Homo sapiens: one gene and its partners. The protein of the gene in region 3 interacts with the protein of the main gene of each other region in a pairwise test. Each region holds a gene or a part of one and is shown on either strand. Other genes may lie near its edges.

Evidence for each region.
Region 1: the proteins of GMFG (region 3) and PSD interact in a two-hybrid assay, tested with the Homo sapiens proteins (one large-scale study listed by IntAct).
Region 2: the proteins of GMFG (region 3) and CAMK1D interact in a two-hybrid assay, tested with the Homo sapiens proteins (one large-scale study listed by BioGRID and IntAct).

The regions. Positions count from the first base shown.
Region 1 is NC_000010.11:102,408,711-102,412,336, reverse strand, and holds part of PSD (PH and SEC7 domain-containing protein 1), read left to right. Parts: intron 1-109; coding exon 110-190; intron 191-517; coding exon 518-630; intron 631-1,220; coding exon 1,221-1,279; intron 1,280-1,389; coding exon 1,390-1,479; intron 1,480-3,059; exon of another isoform or gene 3,060-3,442; intron 3,443-3,626. UniProt on the Homo sapiens protein: Guanine nucleotide exchange factor for ARF6. Induces cytoskeletal remodeling.
Region 2 is NC_000010.11:12,348,212-12,352,346, forward strand, and holds the start of CAMK1D (calcium/calmodulin-dependent protein kinase type 1D), read left to right. Parts: upstream 1-1,335; 5' UTR 1,336-1,607; coding exon 1,608-1,699; intron 1,700-4,135. UniProt on the Homo sapiens protein: Calcium/calmodulin-dependent protein kinase that operates in the calcium-triggered CaMKK-CaMK1 signaling cascade and, upon calcium influx, activates CREB-dependent gene transcription, regulates calcium-mediated granulocyte function and respiratory burst and promotes basal dendritic growth of hippocampal neurons.
Region 3 is NC_000019.10:39,333,150-39,337,346, reverse strand, and holds the start of GMFG (glia maturation factor gamma), read left to right. Parts: upstream 1-1,303; 5' UTR 1,304-1,370; coding exon 1,371-1,373; intron 1,374-1,792; exon of another isoform or gene 1,793-1,815; coding exon 1,816-1,912; intron 1,913-2,036; coding exon 2,037-2,086; intron 2,087-4,197.

The DNA of each region.
Region 1 (3,626 bases), on a different chromosome or scaffold from region 3:
CATCCTGAAGGCAGCTCTCCATCTAATGTCCCCTGGTCATTGGGTAATCCCCACCTGACCCCCTGCACTTCCCCTTGAGACCCTACCTGTCTCTCTGCCCTGCCCACAGCAATGACTTCAGCAAACTGGTGGCTGGGGAGTACCTCAAGTTCTTTGTCTTCACGGGCATGACTCTGGACCAAGCTCTCAGGTGGGTGTTGACCCCTTGGAGGACAGCCCCCACTCTCCGGGGTTCGTGTTAGGGCCCCAGGATGCCTCCTTTGAGCCCCTCTGTCCCCCACAAGCCGTCCTGACATCACCCTTCCCAAGATGGCTGGGCATGGCCAAGGGCCAGAGCTGCCTGGTAAAGGGACCTTGGGTAGGGGTGATGGGTGGAGGGTCAGGGTGCATACCCTCATCCCCTTTCTCTCCTCCCCTTCCCACCCCAGCTGCTGTACTCTCAAAGCCTCCTGTCACCCCAGAGACAGAGGCTGGAAACTCCTGGTTGCTAGGCAACCCTCTCTTGCCCCTTCTCCAGGGTGTTTCTGAAGGAGCTGGCCTTAATGGGTGAGACCCAGGAACGAGAGCGCGTGCTGGCCCACTTCTCCCAGCGATACTTCCAGTGCAATCCTGAAGCCCTGTCCTCAGAGGGTGAGGAGTTCCGAGAGCAGGGGTGTCCTTAGCTGGCCACAGTGGCAAAATGGGCTGGGCCCTGTGTGTGTGTACAGGAGCATGAGTGTGTGTACAGCAGGGAATGGATGTACATGCGTGTAGGCATGTGAACTTGCATGTGTGCAGACAGCGCTGTCATGGCTGCATGTATGTGGAACTATACATGTGGGCAGGCATATTGCTAGGGTTGAGTGTGTTGTGAAGAGGCAGGAGTTTGCATGCCTGTGCAGGCCAGTGCTTGGCTGGAGAGGGGATTCTGTTTGGCTGCACTGGTCTACAGGACTGTGCTGCGGTTCACTTTCTCGTGGTCCAGGCTTAGAGGCAAGGGAACGTTGGGGCAACTAGTACGTTGGGGCAACTAGCCCTCAGTACTTGAGGGAGCCAGGGACGGGTCCTTGCTGACGGATCTGCTGGAAGAGGAGCTCTTTGTGGGGAGGGTTTACTAGCGGGGTTCAGGAGGTAGGAAGTTGCCGGCCAAAGGGGGTGGGGATGAAATGGGAGGTTGGGGAAGATGGCTGTGGGAAGGGTCCCTGGGAGGCAGCCAAGGCTGAAAGTCAGCTCTCCCCTAGACGGCGCCCACACGCTGACCTGTGCGCTCATGCTGCTCAACACGGATCTCCACGGCCATGTGAGTGGAGGCGGGCGGGCAGGAGCCGGAAAACAAACCCCTGGCCAGACATGCAGGACCTGGGAGGCCAAGGGCCCTCCAAACTCACAGGCCTCCGTTCCCTTCCTTAGAACATCGGGAAGCGCATGACCTGCGGGGACTTCATCGGGAACCTGGAGGGCCTCAATGATGGCGGCGACTTCCCTAGGGAGCTGCTCAAGGTGGGGGGCGGGGCAGGGTAGAAGTCGCTGGAGGGGAAGGATGGAGGACCCAGTCGGCGACGGAGTCCAGAGTCGGAGGGAGGGCAGGGCTGGGGCTTGCCGACCCCCGGCTCCTGCCACGGAAGCCCGGGCTCTCGTGACTCAGCCTGGGGACCGCCCCCTCCCCAGGCCCCACGCGCAGGCTCTCCCGGAACATGCGCACATGCGTGCGGTCGCGACTGCGCACGGCGGGGGAGGGGACCCGGCTCTGGAAAACGCGAGCAGGCGGCCCCGGCCCCTGCGTTTGCCTTCAGTTCCCCTCCTCCAGTGTGCGCTGGGGTGGAAGGCGGGAGTTGCGGGGGTCCCTGCACGGGACAGGGATTGGATGGGGGTACACTCCACACTGCTCCCCCGCCGCGTGGACAGCCAAAAAGACCTTCCCGGTGCTGCTGCGCTGCAGGAACCCGGAGGGAGAGGGGCCTGAGAGGGACTAAGCTTTTCCAAGGTCTGGCAGCGAGTTAGCGCAAAGCTGGAGCTAGAAACTGCTTTCTGGCTCCCTGTGAGCAGGTCCCGTTCCCAGGCGCCAGCTCCATGGCCCGCAACCGAGGGCTCAGATACGTAGGGGCTGGTGCCGGTAGGAGAAGGGAGTGGCTCATCCAGTGGGTTCACTCCTCTCCCTGATCTGGTGGTAGTTTATCTAGAGAGGCCTGGACTCACTTGAAGAAACCCCCAGGCTAGGACAAAGGTGTCTCTGCTCCACTACATACATGTAACAGCACAGGATTGTCCTAGGGCGTTTCTGTGAGCTTGGGGTGCTGGGCTTCTGAGTTTGGGGTATATCTGAGAGGGAACGTCCATGGTGAGCTGGGGTGTTGCTTGAGTTGAGTTGCATCTGTGTGCCCGGGCGTCGTGAATCAAGGGTTTGTATGGCTTGGTGTGTTTGTGCTTTAGGGCTTACGATTCAGAGTGTGTGTTTGAGTTGGGGTGTAGGCTGGATGTTTATGTGTGGTGGGGTTTACATCTTCGAATTGGCCGTGTCTGAGGTATGCCATATGCCTCTGAGTAGGGGGTGTATCTTTGTGAGCTAAAGATTCTAAGTTTTGAAGTGTCCATCTGAATGGGTAGTGTCTGCGAGTTGGGGTGACCGTGAACTGGTGCGTCTGGTTTGTTGGGGTGTATGTCAGAATCGAGGTGTGTTACGTGACTTCAGATCTATATATGGGTGGGGTATCTGCGGGTGAGCTGGATGAGGCCAGGGCTGTTCCTTCCCTGCCTCCGTCCTCCCTCGAGGCCCCTCTTGGCTCAGTGGAAAAGGGCTGCAGGGAAGCGGTCCGACCTCTCCCCTCCCACCACCCCAACCCAGACCAGCCAGAAGGGAGTTCCAGACCCTGCCGGGTCCGCCCAGCGTCACAGCCCCAGGCCTAGCGGTGCTCTCAGCCTCCCTGGAGCTGCCACCCACGCTGGCCTCCCCAGGCTCCTCCCCGTGGCCGCGCGGGGAGGGCCCCCTTCGCGATCGGGCGCCTCCATTTCATGCGGTCCCCGCCCCCAGCCCTCGCCCTCCCTTTCCCGTCGGCGCCCCCCTCCCGCTCTAGCCAAGCCGCAGAGCAGACAGCGCCGCCGCCGCCGCCGCGCACTCCGTGCGTCCGTGAGAGCCGGGCCGGCTCGGGCCGGGCCGCGCCGCTCGCGCTGGCTGTCGGGGGAGCGGTCCGCGGGCCGTCCGGGCGGCCCGGGGGCCGAGGGCGGACGGGGGCATGGCCGGGGGCCGCGGCGCGCCGGCCGGGCCAGCATGATCGGCGTCAACAGCATCCACAGCAGCGCCGGGCGGCTGCGCTCGCGCTCGCTGTGCTCCGTGCGCTACGGGCGCACCCACCGCGGCGCGGAGACCCTGTGCTACGGCTGGCCGCAGCGCTCGCGCAGCCTCAAGCCCGTGCTCTACACCGACCTGGTGGTCAGCCGCCTGCAGAGCCGCAAGAAGAAAAAGGCGGTGAGGGCGTTGGGGCCGCGGCCCACGCCAGGTTGCGGGGCGACCGAGGGGGCGGCTTGTGGGAGGCACCGAGGGCGGTGCCAACCGAGGGCGGAGCCTGGTAGGGACAGAGGTCATGGGCAGCCAGAGGCGGGCACGGGCTGGGGGGGCAGGGAGGGCACAGACCCTGGGGCCAAGGTGGGCC
Region 2 (4,135 bases), on a different chromosome or scaffold from region 3:
TCGTCTGACCTCTTTAGGGTCAGAGTAGGGGCTGAGGGAGAGCAGCTGGGCTGCCTCCACTTCAGCCAGAGTCAGAACTAGGCACAAGGTGCTGGATGAAGTTTCCTATTCAGGGAGCAGATTTTTTTTTTCCTTTTACAGTGAAATTGGAACAGTCCTGGGAAAATGGGACAGGTGTCCCCAGTCAAGAGACAGAGCTGTTTACCCAACTACGAGGAGAGGCCCTGAGGGAGGCGAAGTGTTGATACCAAGAAATCTAAAATTTTCCGATCAAGAGGTCGCCCCTGCAGGTTGGGGACCAGGGAACTGGAGCACGTGGGCTGCCCTCTGACAGGTGGACACCAGGAGTGGGGCGGGCAGGCCAAAGTACAGCTGGGAGATGGGAGTCCGGAGGGAATTCTCTGGGTTAGTTTTGGCAGTCCATAGGAAAGCAGGTGCCTGCCCCGCAACCCGGACACCCTACTAAGCCAGCCGCGGGTGGGCTCCTCCTTCGAGGGGACTGCGGGGCAGACGATCACTTCTTTCCACTGAGTCTCTGGGAGGAGACAGGGAGATGCCAGAAGGGGCCAAGCGTGAGCCAGGGCAACCAGGCCGGCCAGGCCCGCCGGCCGCTCCAGCCCAGCACCAGGGCGCCCGCGCGGCTGCCAAACACCCCCGGGAGTTTTGCTCGCAAAGGGACCACGAGGCAGCTGCTGGCGCGTCCTGCGCGTACCCGCCCAGAGGCTCCCCGGCTTGCTCCTCGCGGGTCTGTCCCGAAACTGACGTGAAACCGATTTGGTGCAATGCGAATGAGCTCCCGCCCGCCTCCGCCTCCATCCCAGCCGCCGCCGCCGCCCGTCGCCATAACAACCGGCCCCCACCCCCCCCACCCCACGCCTTGCCCCTCGGGTCCCCCGGGCCACAGGCCACAGCGCGGGAAGGCGCCCCGCCCTCGGCGCCCCGCATCCGGCCGCCGCGCACCCCCGCCCGCCCGGCGCTTCCGAGCCACGCAGAGGCGCCCCCTCCCGCCGGAGACGGGAAAGCCCCGGCGCCCCCAGACTGGGCTCCGTTTCCAGCTCCCGGAGGGGCTGGGGCTCTCCCGCGTGCGCCCCGCACCTGCCGGGGGCCCGTACCCGCCCTCGCCGGGGCTCCAGGGGGCACGACGGCCGTGGCCCGGCGCTCTTGGGAGGGGAGCGGGACATCCCCGAAGGCGGCGCGCTGGAGGCGGGGAGCGGCCGGGGCGCACGGAGAGGGCGGGGAGCCCGCGGGAGGGGGAGGAGGGGGAGGAGGGGGAGGAGGCGCGAGGTGGGGGGGAGCGCGGCGGGCGGCAGGGAGGGAGCGGGAGGGAGGCAAGAAAGTAGCAGAAAGTGAGGCTGGCAGGCGGCGGCAAAGGAGCCGGCGCGCGGCGGCGGCAGGAAGTCTGTGCCCGAGAACAGCAGAAATAAGAGCCAGGGAGGGACCGCGGCCGCGGCGGCGGCGGCGAGAGCGAAAGAGGAAACTGCAGAGGAGGAAGCTGCGCCGCAGCCCGAGCCGCCCGGCATCCCCGCCGCCTCTGCGCCCGCGCCGCGCCCCCGGCGCCCCCTCCCCAGCGCGCCCCCGGCCGCTCCTCCGCGCCGCGCTCGTCGGCCATGGCCCGGGAGAACGGCGAGAGCAGCTCCTCCTGGAAAAAGCAAGCTGAAGACATCAAGAAGATCTTCGAGTTCAAAGAGACCCTCGGAACGTAAGTGGGGACCGGGGAGGCGAGGGTGGAGGTGGCCGCGGCAGGGGCTGCACGGGCAGCTCCAGCTGCCGCCGCCGCCACTACCGCGGCAGAAACCCAGCCTGTCACCGCGTCCTCATTGTCCCGTTCTCGGCGCTGCGGAGCCCCCCCGAGCGCGCCCGACGCGTGGGCCTGCGACCCCCGGGTGGGCGCCGTTCCCGGGAGGGGGAGGGGGCAGCGCCGGGCTGTCAGGGAGCAGCCCACGCGGGCGCGCGACTTCCCACTTCTCCTGCCACCGCCGCCCTCTCCGCTGCCTTCTCCCCACGCGTGACTGTGGGCTGAGCATGGTGGGGATGGCTGTTTACCGGCTGTGTGCGTTTACTCGCCGTGTGCATGGGCGCACCGCGTTGGCGAGACGTGGTCACGAGAAGATCAGCCTCCAGTCGTTCCCATTTCTGTCCTTACATCATGTATTTCTATGGAATTGGCATCTGCACGTACGAGGTGTAGGCAAGACTTTGGGTGGCCACGCGAGGATGGAAGGGAAGGGCTTCGCAGTGCTCAGGGTCACACGTGGGCAGAGCCTCACCGGAGGGTCTGTGCATTTCACGCGGGCTCGGCCGCACGCGCCGGGGAGCGCGTCTCCAAGGGAGGGTCTGTGCGCGTCGCTGCGCGGGCGGTGCTCTCTCCGGGCTGCATCGAGTCCCATGCTGATGGCTGTGTCTCAAGAAAGCAGAAATAATCCGAAGTCGATGGCAGGAACGCTCCAAGCATGTGCTGCTCAGCTCAGCTGCTGTTCCCTTTCTGCCCAGGAGTTGGGTCTTGTTTGTTTTGTTTCGGAGCGGCTCAGAATAGGTGGGGAGGCTGATAGTGAAAGAGAATCAGGACCTGCCGAATGAGTCTGAAGTTCAAGTTATTTCCTTCCCTCACACAATCAGTATTTGCTCTGCATCAGTATCTGTCAGTGTGGATTCACGCACAGGTGTGCAGTCAGAAATGCCCATTTTGCAGGGGTTCATGGAGGTGTTGATTAGGCTGGGAAGAGAAAGGGGAGCTATTTCATGGGATAAATCAGTGCGTTGTTGGGTGCCCTTTCTTTCCTTCCTCCTTTTTTTCCGTGTGCTTGTTTTTGTGCTTGGTTTCTTTTTTCCAGCACCACATTACCCAGCTTGTCTTCACCTCCAGGCTCGGCGTCTGCTGCTGTTCAGTCATTTCCCCTCACCCCCACGCAGATCTGCAGGGGGTCCCCCGGAGAGAAGTTGTGAGGGTGGCTTTCCCAGTCCTGCTTCTGATTCCCGGGAAGGCGCACGCTGAGGACTAGAGTGGGGTCTCCCTGCTGTGGTTGTTGCCTTTCAGGGAGGGCACCTATTTGCTATCTTTGTTGGAATGAAAACAGAAAAAGATGTAGCTTTTTAATAAATAGGGGTTTGGGGTTGCCTCTTAGTGCAGCCAGGTAAGGGGTTAGTTTGGGTCAAAACTTTTGAAAATTGCCACTGAGGTTTATTCGGGTTTGGGGTTGTGATTCTGAGATGCTCAAGTTACTGAGAGACAAGAAAGCATGGCCTTTGCTTGTCATCCAGGACCCGCACTGTGGCCGCCAATGAGGAGATGGGAGAGCATGGGGACCCACCCTGTGTGAATGCTTTCCTGTCCGTGGCTTGTTCCCACCCGAGCCCCCCACACTGGCTTCCTGCCTGTAGCCTCCGGGTGACTGATGCCCTGTCCCCTGACTGACTCGTGCAGCTGCACCTCTGCAGTGGCGGGGCTGCTGAGGCTCCAAGCTGTGGCTCCTGCTGGAGCATGGTGTTTGGAGATGACTGTGGGTGGTTTCCACCTTGGGGAAAAATGGGGATTTGCCCTCTGGTGCCAGAGCGCTTCTCTGGCAGAACAGCCTCTTGGACTCCAGCCATGTTCCCTGTGAGCTTTGGGAATGGGTCTCTCTTAGGGTCCTAAAGCATTGCCTTCTGCCTGGGATGGAATTCTTTGCAAAGGAGCTTCCCACTGTAGCACTGGCATTGGACCTAGAAGAATGATAGAAACAGTGTGATGATCAAGATGTTTTTACTCCACATAATAATCATGGTAATCATAGGTGGTATTCTGAAATGTATACCCAGGATCAGGTATTATTCTACGTGCCTTATGTGTATTAACTCATTTAAATCTCAGAGTAACCTTATGAGGTAGGTATTTACCATTACACCCAATTTGCAGATGAGAAAACTAAGGCAGCAGAGATAATTATGTGAGCTACCAAACCTTAGCTAACTATTAAGTGGCGGAGCTGGTATTCACAGATAGGCAGAGCAACTTTTGATTGTCCATACAGGGTTGACACACTTTGTAGATCCTGTAATGGCCAATGCTTAGTCAATAATTTGACTTAACTTTAGTATTTGGAACGCGAACTTTAATATTAATGTAAAGAAAACATAATGGGCTGGGCGTGGTGGCTCA
Region 3 (4,197 bases):
TTTATTTCTTCTTTATATGACAGTCAGGACATTATATTGATTTTTTTTTGAATTTATGTGTGTAAGTAGGTTATATTATCTAGGAATTTTATTTCGGGATGGGAAAAGGGGGCAGTGCAAAAATACTCAATAAAAAAAATAGCCGGGCATGGTGGCTCACAGTGGCTCACACCTGGAATCCCAGCACTTTCGGAGGCTGAGGCAGGTGGATCATTTGAGGTCAGGAGTTCGAGACCAACATGGCCAACATGGTGAAACCCCATCTCTACTAAAAATACAAAAATTAGCCGGGCGTAGTGGCACGTGCCTGTAGTCCCAGCTACTTGGGAGGCTGAGGCCGGAGAATGGCTTGAACCTGGGAGGCGGAGGTTGCAGTGAGCTGAGATCGCACCACTGCACTCCAGCCTGGGCGACAGAGTGAGACCCTGTCTCAAAAAAAAAAAATTGGGTACCGGTCTGACGGGATTGAACTCCCTTGTTGTAGGGCCTCATAGGTCATTGCAAGGCTAGTGAGGTTGGAAAAGTGCAGGAAAAAAGTCACCATTACCCAGGCACTGTGGGGTTGCCCCTCTGGTCCCCATTTTGCCATTGACATAATGGGCGTCAGTCTGACCAGCAAAAGACTAAACTCCCCTTTTCCAGCCCTGCAATTCAAATATCCCAGATGGGGGTAAATCTAGGAAGGCCACCTGGAGGAGGGGAGGAGCAAAATAGTTCGTTTTTAGTACCTATTGTGTCTGCCATGCTGGCAGCTATGTGAAGCTATTTATTTATTTATTTTTATTTATTTGTATTTTTATTGCCTGGGATAGAGTGCAATGATGTGATCTTGGCTCACTGCAACCTCTGCTGCTCGGATTCAAGCAATTCTTGTGCCTCAGACTCCCGAGTAGCTGGGATCACAGGCGTGCACCACCATGCCAGGCTAATATTTTGTATTTTTAGTAGAGATGGGGTTTTGCCATGTTGGTCAGGCTGGTCTCCAACTCCTGACCTCAGGTGATCCGCCCGCCTCGGCCTCCCAAAGTGCTGGCATTACAGGTGTGAGCCACCATGCCCGGCCGATGTGAAGCTATTTATATCCTCACCACAATCTCAAATCAGAGGGGTGAAGTTACTTAGCTAGGGTCACACAGCAAGGAAGCTTTGGAACCCTGGTCTGAGCGATTTCCTGACAGGTCCTGGCAGATGAGGGGAAGGAAGGAGGGGGAGGAGCCCTCTGTGACAGTTGTCCCAGAAAGGGCATAAACAGGATGTGGTGTTGGATGAAACCTTCCTCCTACTGCACAGCCCGCCCCCCTACAGCCCCGGTCCCCACGCCTAGAAGACAGCGGAACTAAGAAAAGAAGAGGCCTGTGGACAGAACAATCATGGTCAGGGGCCAGGGGTTCTATGGGAAGAGCTGGGGCTGGGGTTGGGGCTGGGGCTTGGAGGACACCTGGGCGAAGGTCAGGCTATGGGATGGAGGTCACGGGCCGGGAAGGGGGCCCAACTGTGGTGAACAGCCCGGCTGGAAGAACAGAGAGACAGTGGCTCTGGGTTTAGGCTCAGGAAGTGGATCTCTGCACCTCCTTGAGTGTCCCCCAAGAGTCCCCGTGGAGAAGGCGGGAACCCAGCCTCTGCTCCGCCCCCCAAGCTGAGTGCCCTGGTGAGGGGTATCTACTCTGTGGGAAGGGTGCCTTTTCTCAATGTTCACAAAGGCATCAGATGGGCCGGCGCGATGCTCCTCTTCATTAGTGGATGGAGAAACAGGTTTGGGGAAGGGGTGAGGGCTGAGGCCAGGCCATTTCAGCTCTTCCTGGGTCCCTCCGGCAGTCTGACTCCCTGGTGGTGTGCGAGGTAGACCCAGAGCTAACAGAAAAGCTGAGGAAATTCCGCTTCCGAAAAGAGACAGACAATGCAGCCATCATAAGTGAGTGACATCTTCCCCCACAGAAGGATGGGAGGGCGGTGGTGAGGGCAGATAGGGAGGGCTGGGCTTGTGTCCCCCATGGATCAGGGGGAGTGTCTAATCCCTGTGTGCCACCCCTCCCCAGTGAAGGTGGACAAAGACCGGCAGATGGTGGTGCTGGAGGAAGAATTTCAGGTGATGGGCTGGGGTGATTGGGACTGGGAGGTACAGGGTGAGACTGGGAGAACCAAGTGGTTGGAACTGATATGAAGAGCCTGGCATGGGGGTAGAAAGACCTGGAGATTGGCCGAGCACAGTGGCTCATGCCTGTAATCCCAGCACTTTGGGAGGCCGAGGCAGGTGGATCACCTGAGGTTGGGAGTTCAAGACCAGCCTGGCAAACATGGTGAAACCCCATCTGTACTAAAAATATAAAAAGTTAGCTAGGCATGGTGGTGGGCACCTGTAATCACAGCTACTTGGGAGGCCGAGGCAGGAGAATCGCTGGAACCCGGGAGATGGAGGCTGTAGTGAGCCGAGATTGTGCCACTACACTTCAGTCTGAACCACAGAGCAAGACTCTGTCTCAAAAACAAAAACAAAAAACAAAAAAACAAAAAACCCTGGAGATCAAGTTCTAGCTCACTCATGACCCCCAGCAAGAGACTTTGCCTGTTTGTGTCTCTATTTCCTCATCTGTGAAATGGGGAGAATAGTACTTATCTCATAGGCTTGTTTTTACATCCAGTGATTTAATTCTTGTAATGGGTTTAGAACAAGGCCTGGCACTTAGTATGTGCTCAATAAGGTGATGATGATCTTAATAATGATGATAATAATGCTTTATTGGCATTTAAATGAAAGAGTTTCCATATAAGTTAAAAAGCTAGCCAGGCATGGTGGCTCATGCCTGTAATCCCAGCGCTTTGGGAGGCTGAGGCAGGAGGATCACTTGAGCCCAGGAGTTTAAGACCAGCCTGGGCAACATGGTAACACCCTAACTCTACTAAAAATACAAAAATTAGCCAAGCACAGTGGTGTGCACCTGTGATCTCAGCTACACAGGAGGCTGAGGTGGGAGGGTTGCTTGAGGCTGGGAGTTTTGAGACCAACCTGGGCAACAAAGCAAGACCCCATCTCGGCTGGGTGCCGTGGCTCACGCCTGTAATCTCAGCACTTTGGGAGGCTGAGGCGGGCGGATCACAAGGTCAGGAGATCGAGACCATCCTGGCTAACATGGTGAAACCCCGTCTCTACTAAAAATTCAAAAAATTAGCTGGGTGTGGTGGCGGGTGCCTGTAGTCCCAGCTACTCGGGAGGCTGAGGCAGGAGAATGGCGTGAACCCCGGAGGCGGAGCTTGCAGTGAGCCAAGATCGTGCCACTGCACTCCAGCCTGGGCGACAGACTCTGTCTCAAAAAAAAAAAAAAAAAAAAAAAGACTCCATCTCTACAAAAAAAAAAAAGGGGGTAGACCTCACCCCCCTGGTGGCCTCACTGTCTTTATCAATAACAAGAATGATAATAAGGCTTATTTCTCTAGTGTTGCGATAAGGATTTATAAGGGAATCCATGGAGACTGGGGGCTGGGGCTCTCTCAGGCCCTCTGAAAGGCAGTATAGTGAAGCAGTTATGATTCGAACCCAGATTCAAATCTCAACTCTGCTGCTTTCTATCTGTGCAATCTTGGGCAAATGCCTTAACACCTCTGGGCCTCAGTTTTCTCAGCTGTATAGTGGGCATAATGATGGGACCTACCCCACAGACTTACGGGATAGTTGCATGAATTAATCCATGTGTGTTTCATAGAACGATGCCTTGGCACATGGTAAGTGCTCACCTAAAGGTGGTCATTCTTTTTTTTTTTTTTTTTTTTGAGACGGAGTTTCGATCTTTTTTGCTCAGGCTGGAGTGCTATGGCACAATCTTGATTCACTGCAACCTCCGCCTCCCGGGTTCAAGCAATTCTCCTGCCTCAGCCTCCTGAACACGCCTGGCTAATTTTTTTGTTGGAAATGGAGTCTCACTCTGTCTCCCAGGCTGGAGTGCAGTGGCGCGATCTCGGCTCACTGCAACCTCTGCATCCCGGATTCAAGCAATTCTCCTGCCTCAGCCTCTCGAGTAGCTGGGACTACAGGTGCATGCCACCATGCCTGGCTAATTTTCTGTATTTTTAGTAGAGACGGGTTTCACCCTGTTAGCCAGGATGGTCTGAATGATTTCCTGACCTTGTGATCCGCCTGCCTCGGCCTCCCAAAGTGCTGGGATTACAGGTGTGAGCCACTGCGCCCTGCCTCATTCTTTGTCT